3 separate regions of the Homo sapiens genome follow, and all the other regions are linked to region 2. The links come from fine-mapping of genetic effects on gene expression. A gene starts in region 2. Each other region holds a variant in brackets. All regions are shown on one strand. Distances are from middle to middle.

Region 1 (4,208 bases), 86 kb before region 2:
TATTTTGGGGGAGAGCATTGACATACTGAAACAATTTCAAAGGACAATTGATTCCTGGCTGGGCATGGTGGCTTGCGCCTGTAATCCCAGCACTGTGGGAGGCTGAGGTGGGTGGATTAATTGAGCCCAGGAGTTCAAGACCAGCCTGGGCTACATGGCGAAACCTTATCTCTACAAAAAATAGAAAATTAGCGGGCATGGTGGTATGCGCCTGTGGTCGCAGCTGTTCTGGAGGCTGAGGTGGAAGGATCACCTGAGCCTGGGAGGCTAAGGCTACAGTGAGCTATGATTGTGCCACTTCACTCTAGCCTGGGTGACAGAGTGAGACCCTGTCTCAAAAAAAAAAAAAAGGAAAAGAAAATTGATTTCTAAGTTGCACAGCACTTACATGATGTAGGATCAGGTAGTTAGGGAAGGAAGATGCCAAACCATCAGAAAAGCCCTCTGGAAGGAGCTGTCGCCGGGGCTGAGTCTGGAGTTTGTTCAGGGAAGAGAAAGACAAGGGAGGGGAGGAAGAATGCCATACGCAAAGACTGGATGATGACAAATGCTGAGCACTGGCTCGTTTGAAGTAAAAGACACATATTTGGGAGCAGAGAGAGGTCTTAGATAATATAGGGCCAAGCAATAGAGGAATTGATGAGCAGGCTACGGGAAGTCATCCTGAGTTCCTGATTGGGAAAGACTGTTTATTAAAGATCATAATTCTGAAAGTGACGTGAAGGGTAGCCTTGGAGAAGGAGAAAGGGTTGTTAGAAGGACCAGGAAGGACACAGTTGTGAGAATACAGGTTTCGGGTGATGAGGATCTGGACTAGAGCAGAGCCTTGGATGGTAAACGACTGGGAAGCCAGTTAGGGTCATGGGAGGGAAAGAGAGGAGCAGAGGAGTGGGTCGTAGAAATAGCAGAAGTGGAAAAACTGGGAAAGTTTTGGTTGGCGATATCTTGATTTCTCCATGAGGGGGACATCTAAATGGTGATGTTTTGTCTTAACAGCTTTGTTGAAGTATAATTGACCTAAAATAAACTGTAGATATGTAAAGCAGCAATCTGATAACTTTGACTTATCAATCAAGGTAGTGAAATATCCATCACCCCAAAAATTTCTTCTGCCTTTTTGTAAGCCCCCTGTCCCCAAGCAATCACTGATCTGTCACTGGGGTATAGATTAGTTTTATAGAACTTCATATAACTGAATTATGCAGCACTCTTTTCTGTCTTATATTCAGCATAATTACTTTGAGTTCATCCACATTGTTGCATGTATCATTTCTTTTCATTGCTCAGTTTTACTGTATAAATGGCAATATTTTGATTTTTTTTTTTTTTTTTGCCGGGGGGAACGCAGTCTTGCTCTACCACCCAGGCTGGAGTGCAGTGGCACGATCTCAACCTCCACCTCCCAGGTTCAAGCAGTTCTCCTGCCTCAGCCTCCGGAGTAGCTGGGATTATAGACACGCACCACCACGCCTGGCTGATTTTTGTATTTTTAGTAGAGATGGGGTTTCACCTTGTTGGCCAGGCTGGTCTTGAACTCCTGACCTCAAGTGATCTGCCCACCTTGGCCTCCCAATATGTTGGGATTACAGGCGTGAGCCACTGTGCCTGGCCAATATTTTGGTCATTTGATGTCAGGAGTGGAATTCAGGGGATGTAACAGGGCATGGCCTGGGTCAGCACCCTTAGTCTGACTGAAGCTTCAAGGGTAGACAAGCTGTCTAGCCGAAAGATTCAAGGCAGGGGGTGGAGGTAGGGGTTAGTGCAGAGGCAGAAGAGACAGGTGAAGAACAACTACCATTCTCTGTGAAAGCAGATTTCAGCCATCTCGAAAGGATAGTTGGTTTTATTTTCAGAGAGCTTTTTTGAAGGTCAGCAAATTTAGAGTTTAAGAAACATGTTTTGTTTTGTTTAATAAATTACTTTTAATTAGCATGCTTCTATGCCGGTGTCATCCTAAAACATACTATTATGTCTTTTTAGGCCATGGGAGAGAAATCCTTTTCTGTTCATAATAATGGTGGGGCAGTGTCATTTCAGGTATGTATGCTCTTTGTGTAAAGCCTCCTAGAATTTCTCTCTACCATGTAAAAGGGTAATTTTTTTTTAGAGGAATTTTGAATTTAGGAATAACAACTTAGGTATGCCCTGTATCAGTCACTTAAATGCAGTAGCTCTCCTTATAACAAGCCCACAAGGTGGATATTGTTACCCATCTACTTATCAAATCAGAAGTCTCTGAGAGTGAATAACTTTGTGACTATCTAGTGTAGGTGACACGGTACAGTTTCCAACCCAGTCCTGCCTGGCTGTTCCCATGACCCCTTTGCCCCAATCCCATGCTACCTCCCATTCAAAGTGTGCCAGAAGCATAGTACCCCATTCTGAAAGGACCATTGATGATGATTTACGGTGATGTTGTAATTTTAGAGATGATTTCACCTAGACTCAGAGGCTTTGAGTGACCTGCTTAGCTGTCAGAGTTATTAATTGCCCATGAGTGTTTAGGGGCAGCATAATAGCATA[C/T]GTATGGGAACAAGATACTGGACTGGGCCTCAGAACCCACTTACTAGCTGGGTGTATTGGACACCTCACTTCATTTCTTTTTGTTTTGTTTTTGAGACAAGGTCTCACTCTGTTGCCCAGGCTGGAGTGCAATGGTATAATCACGGCTCACTGCAGCCTCAACCTCCTAGGCTCAAGTGATCCTCCTGCCTCAGCCTCCCAAGTAGTTGAGACTACAGGCATAGACCACCATACCTGGCTAATTTTTAAATTTTTTGTAGAGATGAGGTCTTGCTCTGTTGCCCAGGCTGGTCTTGAACTCCTGGGATCAAGCAGTCCTCTTACCTGGGCCTCCCAAAGTGCCGAGATTACAGATGTGAGCCACCTTGCCTGGTCTCACTTACTTTCTGAACCTCACTGTTTAATCATCTAAAAATAAAAAATGGCAGGGCGTGGTGGCTCACGCCTGTTATCCCAGCACTTTGGAAGGCTGAGGTAGGCGGATTGCTTGAGCCCAGGAGTTTTGAGACCAGCCTGGGCAACATGGTGAAACATCTCTACAAAAAATACAAAAATTAGCCAGGCATGGTGGTAGATGCTTACAGTCCCAGCTACTAGGGAGGCTAAGGTGGGAGGATCACTTGAGCCCAGGAGTTCAAGACTATCCTGGGAAATGTGGTGAAACTTCATCTCTTAAAAAAAATTACAAAAAGTAGCCAGGTGTGATGGCATGTGCCTCTAGTCCCAGCTACTAGGGAGGCTGAGGCAGGAGGATTACTTGAGCCTGGGGGGTCAAGGTTCACACAGTGAACCTCGATCATGCCACTGCACTGCAGCCTGGGTGACAGAGTGAGACCCTGTCTCAAAAAAAAAAAAAAAAAAAAGCCTACAGTGAAATGCACAGGTCGTGTCTTAAGTATACGGTTTGTTCAGTACTGACAAATGCATATATACCCATGTAATTCACTGTCTCAATATTTCTGTGTTTCCATCTTCTGCGAAAGCCCCTCTATCCCCATAAGCACTGTTCTGATTTCTTTTTCCATGGATCATTTTGCCTGTTCAACAATGTTTGTATGTTCTTTAAGCTTAGTAACCATCATTTTCGTCGCCATCCTTATTAATAGCTAACGGTTATTGAGAACTTGCAGGGTGCTCATTTGCTCAGAACCCTCCAACAGCTTTCCATCTGTCTTGGAGTAAAGCCCAGGTCTTCCCACTGGTCTGCAAGGCCCATGTGGTCTAGCCCCTGTTGTCTCTCTGATCTCAGCTCCTGTTGTTCACACTCTGCTCTCCCACACAAGCCGCCTTGCTTTTTCTCGGACAGATCAGGCTTTAGGCTCTGCTCTCGCTGTTCCCACAGGCAGGAATGCTGTCTCTCAGAATTCCGTAAGTCTTTGCTGAAATGTCACCTTCTCAACAAAGCTTCTCTTGTTTGTAGCTCACTCCTATTTCCCTCATTGTGCTCTGTCTTTCCTTAGTATTATCACTTCCAACATGCTGTATACTGTACTTAGTTATGTTTATTGCCTGTCTCCCCCTCTACAGAAGATACCTTAAGGGCAGGGGTTTTCTGTCTCTTATTATTGATGTATATGAAACTCCTGATCTTGGCCTTGGGCCTATATTTATAGAGACTAATGAACCAATACCAGGCATTGTGCTAAGTGCTTCTATGTCATTATCTCAGTTAATCCTCTAAACAA
Region 2 (4,208 bases):
GCTCAGCACAGTCTGGTCAACTGTTAGCCCCCCACTGTGGGCCCCTCACTGCTGTCCACTCTGAGTTGGTCCTCAAGGTTGGGACATTCTGCTCCCAGGTCTACACCAGATCCCTCCAACTGGGCCCACCTCCTCTGCAGAATGAGCTCCCCAAGCCAGCAAGTCCATCCCCATCTGAAGACTTCCTGGGGCCTGGGGCTCAGCCTGGGCAGGGGCTTCAGGGGAAAGCAGGAGTGGATGGAGTATGCTTAGAGGCAGGAGAGATATTTGGGAGCTGGAAGGCACTCGGCCCTGCTCAGGGTTCCTCTGAGCTTTCTGGACCCTCCGAGGTTAGAACACTGTGGAAAGAAGGGAGAAAGAGACCCCACTCCTGCCTCATCCCTGCTAGCCCCGGGGAGGGCTGCCTCATCCTCCCCGCTCTCTCCCCTACCCCAGGGCCCCAGCACCGGGTGTCATTCTTTCCTCCGTCCTTCGCTCATTCACAGAGATTTGCTGGGTAACACCTCAGGCGGCCTTCTGGGTTATGGAGATGCCTCTGCCCTCTGGGAGGGTGTTCTCCCATGGAAGAGACAAACAGGATGCAGAAAACATAGGTGACGTTTGTGATGGATGTGAAGGAGAGAAACTAAAGCCGAAAAGGATAGGAGAGTTCTCAAGATATGATGATATGTTGGATGAGGTGGACCGGGAAGGCCATGCTGGACCTACCACCTGAACCACACCCCCCTACGCGAATCCACTGGCCTCTGTCCATTCAGGTGGAGCCTGTCACCCCAGCCTCGGCTCAGAGAAACAGCTCTGAGCAGCTCTGACCTGTCACTCCAGCAGCTCTGACCCATCACTCTCTGCTGAAGTCCTTTCATGGGCGCTGGTGGGCAGGGGCCCAGCTCCTCGGCGAGGGGCCTCTCCTGGCCTGCCCCGTGGGCCCTGCCCTTCTCCCAGGTCCCCTGTGCCTGCAGCCGTGCGCAAGCCCGCAAGCCGGGGAACTCTCCCTCGGGCATGCAGGCCTCCCCGCCTCTCCAGGTTGCCTGGGCCAGAACGCTTCTCCATCCACCTCCCTTCCTGACCCTGGGTTTGGAGGTCTCCTGCCCCCAGGCCGAGAGTAGGTGCTCCCACCGCTACCTGCCGCATCCCGCACAGCCCCCTGCCCGCCCTGCGAGGGCTGGGGCACTCCTGTCCCGTGGGCCGCCGTGTCCCCGGCACCCCATGAATCCGTGTCGAATGAATGAATGTCTCCGGGCCGGGACCTGGCCTCATTCACATCCGATCTTCCGGGCCCTCCCCGCCGCGGCGGGGGCCGGAGCGCCAGGGCTGGATTCGGGGAGGGGGTGGCGGGGGTGGCTGCCCCGCCCTGGGGCCGCGTTGAGCCGAGGGGACGCCCCTCCGGCTGGCTGGCGAGGCCGGGGTCCAGCTGGCGGAGGCCGCGGCCAGGCGGGTGCGGGGCGGGAGGTGGCGCCGGGCGCTGAGTGGCGGCTCCGGGTCCACCCCTGGCGCGCGGGTGCGGGCGGGAGGGGGGAGGCGGGAGGCGGGGAGCGCAGGGGCGGCGGCAGGCGGGAGGCAGCAGCGAGCATGTGCCGCGGAGCCCAGTAACCAGGGACGACCGCGGCCACACCGCGCCGGCGCCGGCGCCCAGCCCAGGCAGCCCCGCGCCGCGGCGCCCGGACCGCCCGGGCCTGCCCAGCGGCCGCCCCACGCCCCGGGCGCCCCGGCGCCGACAGCCGCGCAGCGCAGCGCGGGCGCCGCAGACAAAGGCGCGGCCCCGGCCCGGCCCGCCCGGCCCAGCCGCTCCTGCTGGGCGCCCCAACCGGGTCCGGCCCGGGGGGGCGGGGGCCGCGGCCGCCGAGGATGGGGAAATCCAACAGCAAGTTGAAGCCCGAAGTTGTGGAGGAGCTGACCAGGAAGACCTACTGTGAGTGCTCCCAGCCCCCAGCCCGCGCCCCGCGGTCACCCCCACACCCACCGCCCCCGCCCCCGCCCCCCGGACCCGCGCGCTACCCGCTCCGCGCTGCCGCCTCCGCTCCGTCCTCCCCGCCCGGCCTCCAATGTGGACCCCTCGGAGGTTCCCGGGCCGCGCCCCTGCCCCCCGCCCGGCCCCATTGTTCTGGCACCCCCAGCCCGGGGAGTGCGCGCCGGTCGGCGTGCGCGGCGCCACCCCTAGGTCCGGAGGGGCAGCCCCAGCCCCCTGGCGGCCCCCTCTCCGCAGAGCTGTCCCAACGGGCAGGGGCTGTTGCCAGGGTGGGGCGGTGGTCCCGGGAGGGGGCGCCCGGCTGCGCGGAGCCGACTGGCACGAGCGCGCGGGGCTGGTGATTCATGCATCACGATGCCGCCGCCGCCGCTGCTGCGAGATTGGCCTGTCGCCCCCTCCCTGGCCCCGTTCGTGTGGGGGGGGGGGTGGCGAGACTTGGCACAGCGCTCGTCGTGCGGTGACGGCGGTGAAGGGTCCCCGGCACCCTGTGGGTTGCAGCACTTACAGGCTGGATTCTCCCTGGCCCCATCTCTGTCTGCCACACCGGGAAGTGGGTTTCTACAGCCCGGGTCATCTGGGCCGCGTGTGATCATTAGCTGTCGCGGGCTGCCCGGAGGAGGATGGCCTGTCCTTTCTGGGCGTCTCCAGATCAGCCTCAGTGTGTCTCCCTCCACTTGCCTAACTTCACAACTCTGCAGTCCCCTTGCAGTCCTAGTTTCTCCATACCAGGCTTCCCCCTTCCCTGCAGCCTCTCCGGAGGTGCCCTGGCATACCAGGGGTTAATGGTAATGGGTCCAGACCACCCAGGGGATTGCCAGAGGGAAGGCTTCAGCATCGGGGTCTGGAAGGACCTCTGCCTGGGTGTTTGACTTGGAAGGGGACAGTGGTTCTGGGCTTGGGTTGGAATTCAGAACCCATCCCCGGGCAGCTGCGTGGGCCCAGGCCCTCTGCACCACCCCTGGAGGCAGCAGCTTGACCGCCAGCCCCATGTGTTGATGGAGGCTGGGGAGGCAGCTCCTGGTGGTGCATTGCACAACCTCTGCTCCCCGCTTCCCCCCACTCCATCGGCCTTCTGGGCACGTCTGCAGGTCTGTCCAAGCCCACGCTTCAGCTCCATGCCCCTCACCCCTCATGCTTGGAACAAAGGGGGCTTTCCTGAGCGGGTGCTAGTCTGCTGCGAGGTGCTGGCCCTTCTCCTGTGGAATCCTGCAGCATGGAGCTCACATCCCAAGAGCTGCTACCTGGAAGGGGTGAAGCCCCTGGGCACAGGGGCTGTTCTCACCCTCTCTCCAAGGTGGGCAGGTGGGTGGCCCATTCCAGTCTGGCTGCTGTTTTGTGAGATTCGCTGGGGACTCCTTCAAGCTAAGTCCAGATGTGGCCCACAGCCGCCAGCAGGTGGACTTCCTGGGTCCCTGTGCCGGGGGAGGGTGAGGACACCGTGGGCTCCATCAGGAGTGGTGGGCATGGGCTGCACGGGATGCCTCCATCATGGTGGGACAGGGGAGTGAAGCCAGGTTTCCTGCTCATCGAGCATGTCACGTGCCAAGCTCTTGGCATCATTAGCACCTCGACTCTGCCACAACTGCTCTACCAGGCTGGGTGCTGCTACGATCTCCATTTACAGATGGGGAAACTAAGGCTCAGAGGGGCAAAGTGGCATTCCCATGATCCCACAGCTAGTGACCAGGCAGTGCCAGGACTTGAACTCCGGTCTGTCCTGCTCCAAGGCTAGTGAGAGACTTCAGAGCTCGTGCCAAGAGCTCTTCTGGGCCAGGCACAGTGGCTCACGCCTGTAATCCCAGCACTTTGGGAGGCCGAGGCGGGTGGACCAGCCTGACCAACGTGGAGAAACCCCCATCTCTACTAAAAATACAAAATTAGCTGGGCATGGTGGCACATGCCTGTAATCCCAGCTACTCGGGAGGCTGAGGCAGGAGAATCGCTTGAACCTGGGAGGCGGAGGTTGCGGTGAGGTGAGATTGCTCCAAGAGGGAAACTCTGTCTCCAAAAAAAAAAAAAAAAAGCTCTGCTGGGTGTCTTTTTCTGGCTTTTGCTAGAAGCCCATGATGGTGGATTCTAAATGGGAAGGGCCTGGGGTGATAGTCCTGTCCGGCCCCCTCCTCCGGGCAGATCTGTCAACTTTAAGAGAAGTTGAGTCAACAAAGCTTTGTTAGGAACTGGCCCTTGTGGTGCTGGGCTGGGCTATTTTTAAAGGCCTTTGGAGACGTGGAACAGTTTTGGG
Region 3 (4,208 bases), 28 kb after region 2:
TCTCCAGGTTTGGGCTTTCAGCATCCGCCCCACAGCCCCAGCTGCCATCACAGCTGCCATCACAGGCAGCCAGCCTGGATCAGACCAAGGACACCTTCCCTCTCCACCCCCATGCCGAATCCTGAACCCGTTCCTGCCCCATACCCTTTGCCAAAACTTTATCTCAGAAAATTGCTTTCTTTGACTCCAGGCCCGGTGTTTCTGGGTAACTGGCATCTCCCGCTGTTGCCTTCTCTTTCTCTCTTTCTCTTTTTTTTTTTTTGAGACACAGCCTCACTCTGTCACCCAGGCTGGAGTGCAATGGTGTGATCTTGGCTCACTGCAACCTCCGCCTCCCGGGTTCAAGCGATTCTCCTGCCTCAGCCTCTAGAGTAGCTGGGACTACAGGAGCGTGCCACCATGCCTGGCTAATTTTTTGTATTTTTAGTAGAGATGGGGTTTCACCGCTTTAACCAGGATGGTCTCGATCTCCTGACCTTGTGATCTGCCTGCCTCGGCCTCCCAAAGTGCTGGGATTACAGGCGTGAGCCACCGTGCCTGACCTGCCTCCTCTCTTTTTATCTGAGGCCTGCTTGCAGACAGGTCTCTTCCTCCATCTCTGATTTGGGCTTGTGGGAGGAGAGTGCTGACCAGCACGGGGATGGAGGCATCTAGCCTGCCCAGGAATCTGGCTGCCTGGTTCTGAGCCACAGACCTAAGGTCAGGCCCTTGCCTTGCCACTTCCTGATCTCTTTGTGCCTCAGTTTCCACATTTGGAGCTGGGGCAGAGTTGTGCCATCCTCCCTCCATGCTGTCATAAGAGCCGTTGAGCTAAAGCACAGAGGCCCGCCCTGGGCGCAGATTCGGGCTTGCGGCAGGCTCTTGGTATTTGGCAGCTGTTGCGAGCTTGCTTTGAGTGGTTTTTGAAAAGTGGCTTCCTCAAGTCTGGTCAGGCACAAACAATTCAGAGACACCTCTTTGGGCTTCCTTCCCACTTCCCTGGGAATAGATTCTAGTTCCTTTACTCATCTGACCTCCACCTGACACCCCTTTCCTGTCTGTTCATGTGTTCATTCATTCATTCATTCATTCATTCATTCCACAAACCAGTATTGAGCACATTTGAGGGCCCTACGCCGTACCCTTTGCCAAAACTTTCTCTTGGAAAATTCCATTCTTTGACGCCAGGCCTGGCCTTTCCAGGTGTCTGACATCCCCAGGGATCCAGTAGCTTCCATGCCTTTATGAGTGAGTCCCCACAACAGGTCTGTGTGGCAGGTGCTGATAATATGATGCCCACTTTATGGATGAGGCGCCCAAGGCAGGGAGTGCAGGAGGAGCCGTCCCGCGCTCACACAGGCAGGGAGCAAGGGTGGCCTTGGTGGTGGTTTGGTGTTCTTGTTCGGTGACTTTAGAGAGAACATTGATTTGGTTCCAACTTGAAACGATTCTGTACTTTTCAGAAAAAGCATTTTTGTTTGTTTCATGGCTCAGTAAAGAATGGGTATGTGGGCTTGGCTCCAGGCTCAGCCGCTCTCTGTAGCCTCTTTCAGCTTTTGCTTCACGGCTCTGTTCATGTCTTGCCAGTGAAAGAGCCCGGGCTGACCACAGAGAGGGGCTGCAGGGACAGGCTGACAGGGAGGGTGGTCCACCCTTCTGCTGAGAGCTGCCCCTTTTCAGCCTAGCTCCCCCCACCCCCCCACATAGG[T/C]GGGGCAGCCGAGTGCCTGGGGAAGCCAGGGCCTTCCCTGACATCCCGTCCCCAGGGATTGAGAGATGGCAACGAGTAAGTCTTAGATGTTGGCCTGGGAGCAAGGGCTGTGGGAGAAGCAAACCCTTGAGTGCCACAGGGCGTTCCTGGGGGCTCTCCCAGCAGCGGCAGTGGCAGTGGCAGGTAGCACTTGGGCACCGGGAAGGGGTGGGGCCAGTGTCCCCTGCTGGGGTGGTGGGTACAGAGCCCCTGGCTAGGACTGCTCACCAAGGGAGCATTTTCTCATCCAGAGCAGGCCGTTGCCCGGGGACATGGCCGTGGGGAGGGGAGGGCTGGAGGGGAGGCCCCCCAGCGAATGTCTGCCCATCTCCCGGGACACCTTCCCTGAGCTAAAAGCCTACTTTTCTGCTTTCTCTTGCAGTTACCGAGAAGGAGGTCCAGCAGTGGTGAGTAGCTGCTTTTTCTCAAACCGTAGAGGGGCTGCGGCTGTGGGCTTTGTGGGCTGTGGGCTGATGGGGACAGCAGTCCAGCTGCTCAGGATGGGGGCATGTGGAGGGGCCCCTGAGCGTGGGGTCCAGACAGCCTTTGTTCAGTGGCCTTTGTCCTTGCGGGACTGACGTGGTTTCAGTGGAACTGGGTTGGGGGTGGCGCTGGGGTGTTTGTTGGTGGTCCTTGCTTTGAGTTGCATCTTTAGGGACCACCAAGGCCTGAAGGGTTGATTCCAGGCCCTGTTCACCAAAGAGAAGGGTTTGGATAAGAAAGTCCTTCTATGACCTTGAGAGGTCCTTTCCCCTCGCTGGGGCTCCGTCACCCCTTCTATAGAATGATCGATTCGATTGGATCAGGGATGGCAAATGGGTTTGCTCTTGGATGCCAGCTCTATTCAATCTGTCGTAGCTGCCTGGAGGGCCGTGATAAGGATTCCGAGGCCGTACGTCATGGAGCAAATGGAAAAGCGGCAGTGAGGGATAAGTGGGGCCTGTAATGGATGAGCAGTGCCAGGGCTGGGCCTGGGGGAGGAGGGCGGTGTATTGTCCGTCTTTGTGGAATGTGGAGCAGACAGGAGGCTCACCATGTAAGGTGGCTGAGCTGTAGGGGTGGCACGTAGGGACATGAGGCAATGAGCTTGGAGATTTTCCAGTCAAGTCTGGCAGGGCCGGGCACCCCCCAGGAGCCTCCAGGGCCACTCCCTACACCTCCCTGCCTCAAGTCCAAGCTGCAGATGGGGCAGGGCTATGCTGGCCCGCCTGGCTCTGCTGAGCCCTTGCTGGGAGGTGCCCCATCCTGGGATTGAGTTTCCGCCCTCACTTTCCACTTCTGCACTTCCCCAGGTGAGTGCCCTAGAAACACCCTCCTTCTAGATCTTCACCCATGTGGCTCTGCTTCCTGGAATGCCCGCCTTCCTTCCTGGGCCATCTGAACTCTGCCCCTCCCAAGGCTCAGCCCAAGTCGCCTCCACCATGAAACCTCCCTAGATTCCCCATCCGTACATGTTCTCCCTGCCTTCACACACGCCAGCCAGAGGGGTCTTTGCTGAACAAAAACCTGACCATGCCAGGCGTCTGCCACCCTCCCCAGACCTCAGGGTGAAGTCCTCACCCTTGACATGGTTATGTGCTTACGAGGCCTGGTTCAGTCTGGCCCTGTTGACCCCTGCAGTCTGGCGTCCTCTGCCTGTTGGCCTTTGCCCTTTACCCTCTGGCCAGCCTGAACTGCTGTTTGTTCCTTGAACTCACCTTTGTCTCCGGGGCTTCCTGATGTTTGCCCAGGCTGCTCCCTCTGCCTGCTGGGCTGTTACCTCCTCGCCCCTCCCCCCCACCCCCTGAAACCCCCCAGGCCTCTGTCAGAGTTCCCACTGCCCTGTGCCTCCCTGGGACAGCCGATGACTTACTGGGCAGCAGGTAAGCATTTTGTCCCTCTCTGCATCCTGTCGGCACTCTGAGGGCTGGCTAGCTTGGCCTTGTCCATGTTGTGTCCCTAGGGCCTGGCCACAGTGGGTGCTTGGCCCCCAACAGGCATCGTCCTTGGTGCTTCAAATCCATGTTTTTTTTTTTTTTTTGAGTTGGAGTCTCTCGCTCTGCCACCCAGGCTAGAGTGCAGTGGCATGATCTCAGCTCACTGCAACCTCCGCCTCCCAGAGTCAAGCGATTCTCTTGTCTCTGCCTCCCGAGTAGCTGGGACTACAGGTGTGTGCCACCATGCCCCACTAATTTTTATATTTTTAGTAGAGACGGGGTTTCACCATCTTGGCCAGGCTGGTCTCGAGCTCCTGACCTCAAGTGATCCACCCACCTCGGCCTCCCAAAGTGCTGGGATTACAGGAGTGAGCCACTGCACGTGGCCTGCCATTGACTTCTGGGAGCAGTACTAGGGGTTAACAGAGCTCATCATTCCACATGGCAGATGAGGAAACTGAGGTTCAGAGAAAGTCCAGTTGGGAGGTGGCAGGGTTGGGATGAACCATAGGCATCGAGACTCCAGAAGCTGAGCTCTTGCCTCCAGGGTAAATATGTGTGTGTGT

The links. PIP is the estimated chance that this variant, and not a neighbour inherited with it, causes the effect.
Region 1: its variant is the best candidate, but not a certain one, in a credible set for the expression of NCS1 in whole blood (TOPMed, PIP 0.57).
Region 3: its variant is the best candidate, but not a certain one, in a credible set for the expression of NCS1 in tibial nerve (GTEx, PIP 0.61).

The regions. Positions count from the first base shown.
Region 1 is chr9:130,084,440-130,088,647 of GRCh38, forward strand. GPR107 (G protein-coupled receptor 107) reads left to right here. Exons shown (of 18, transcript NM_020960.5): 7 at 1,981-2,037. Among named protein-coding and RNA genes, the nearest start is that of GPR107, 33 kb to the left of the region's middle. The variant C/T (reference allele first, on the strand shown) is at 2,524.
Region 2 is chr9:130,170,819-130,175,026 of GRCh38, forward strand. NCS1 (neuronal calcium sensor 1) reads left to right here and starts at 1,586. Exons shown (of 8, transcript NM_014286.4): 1 at 1,586-1,909. The coding sequence starts at 1,846. RefSeq lists enhancers at 700-1,488, 2,950-3,860 and a silencer at 1,563-1,652.
Region 3 is chr9:130,198,850-130,203,057 of GRCh38, forward strand. NCS1 (neuronal calcium sensor 1) reads left to right here. Exons shown (of 8, transcript NM_014286.4): 2 at 2,109-2,133. Among named protein-coding and RNA genes, the nearest start is that of NCS1, 29 kb to the left of the region's middle. The variant T/C (reference allele first, on the strand shown) is at 1,688.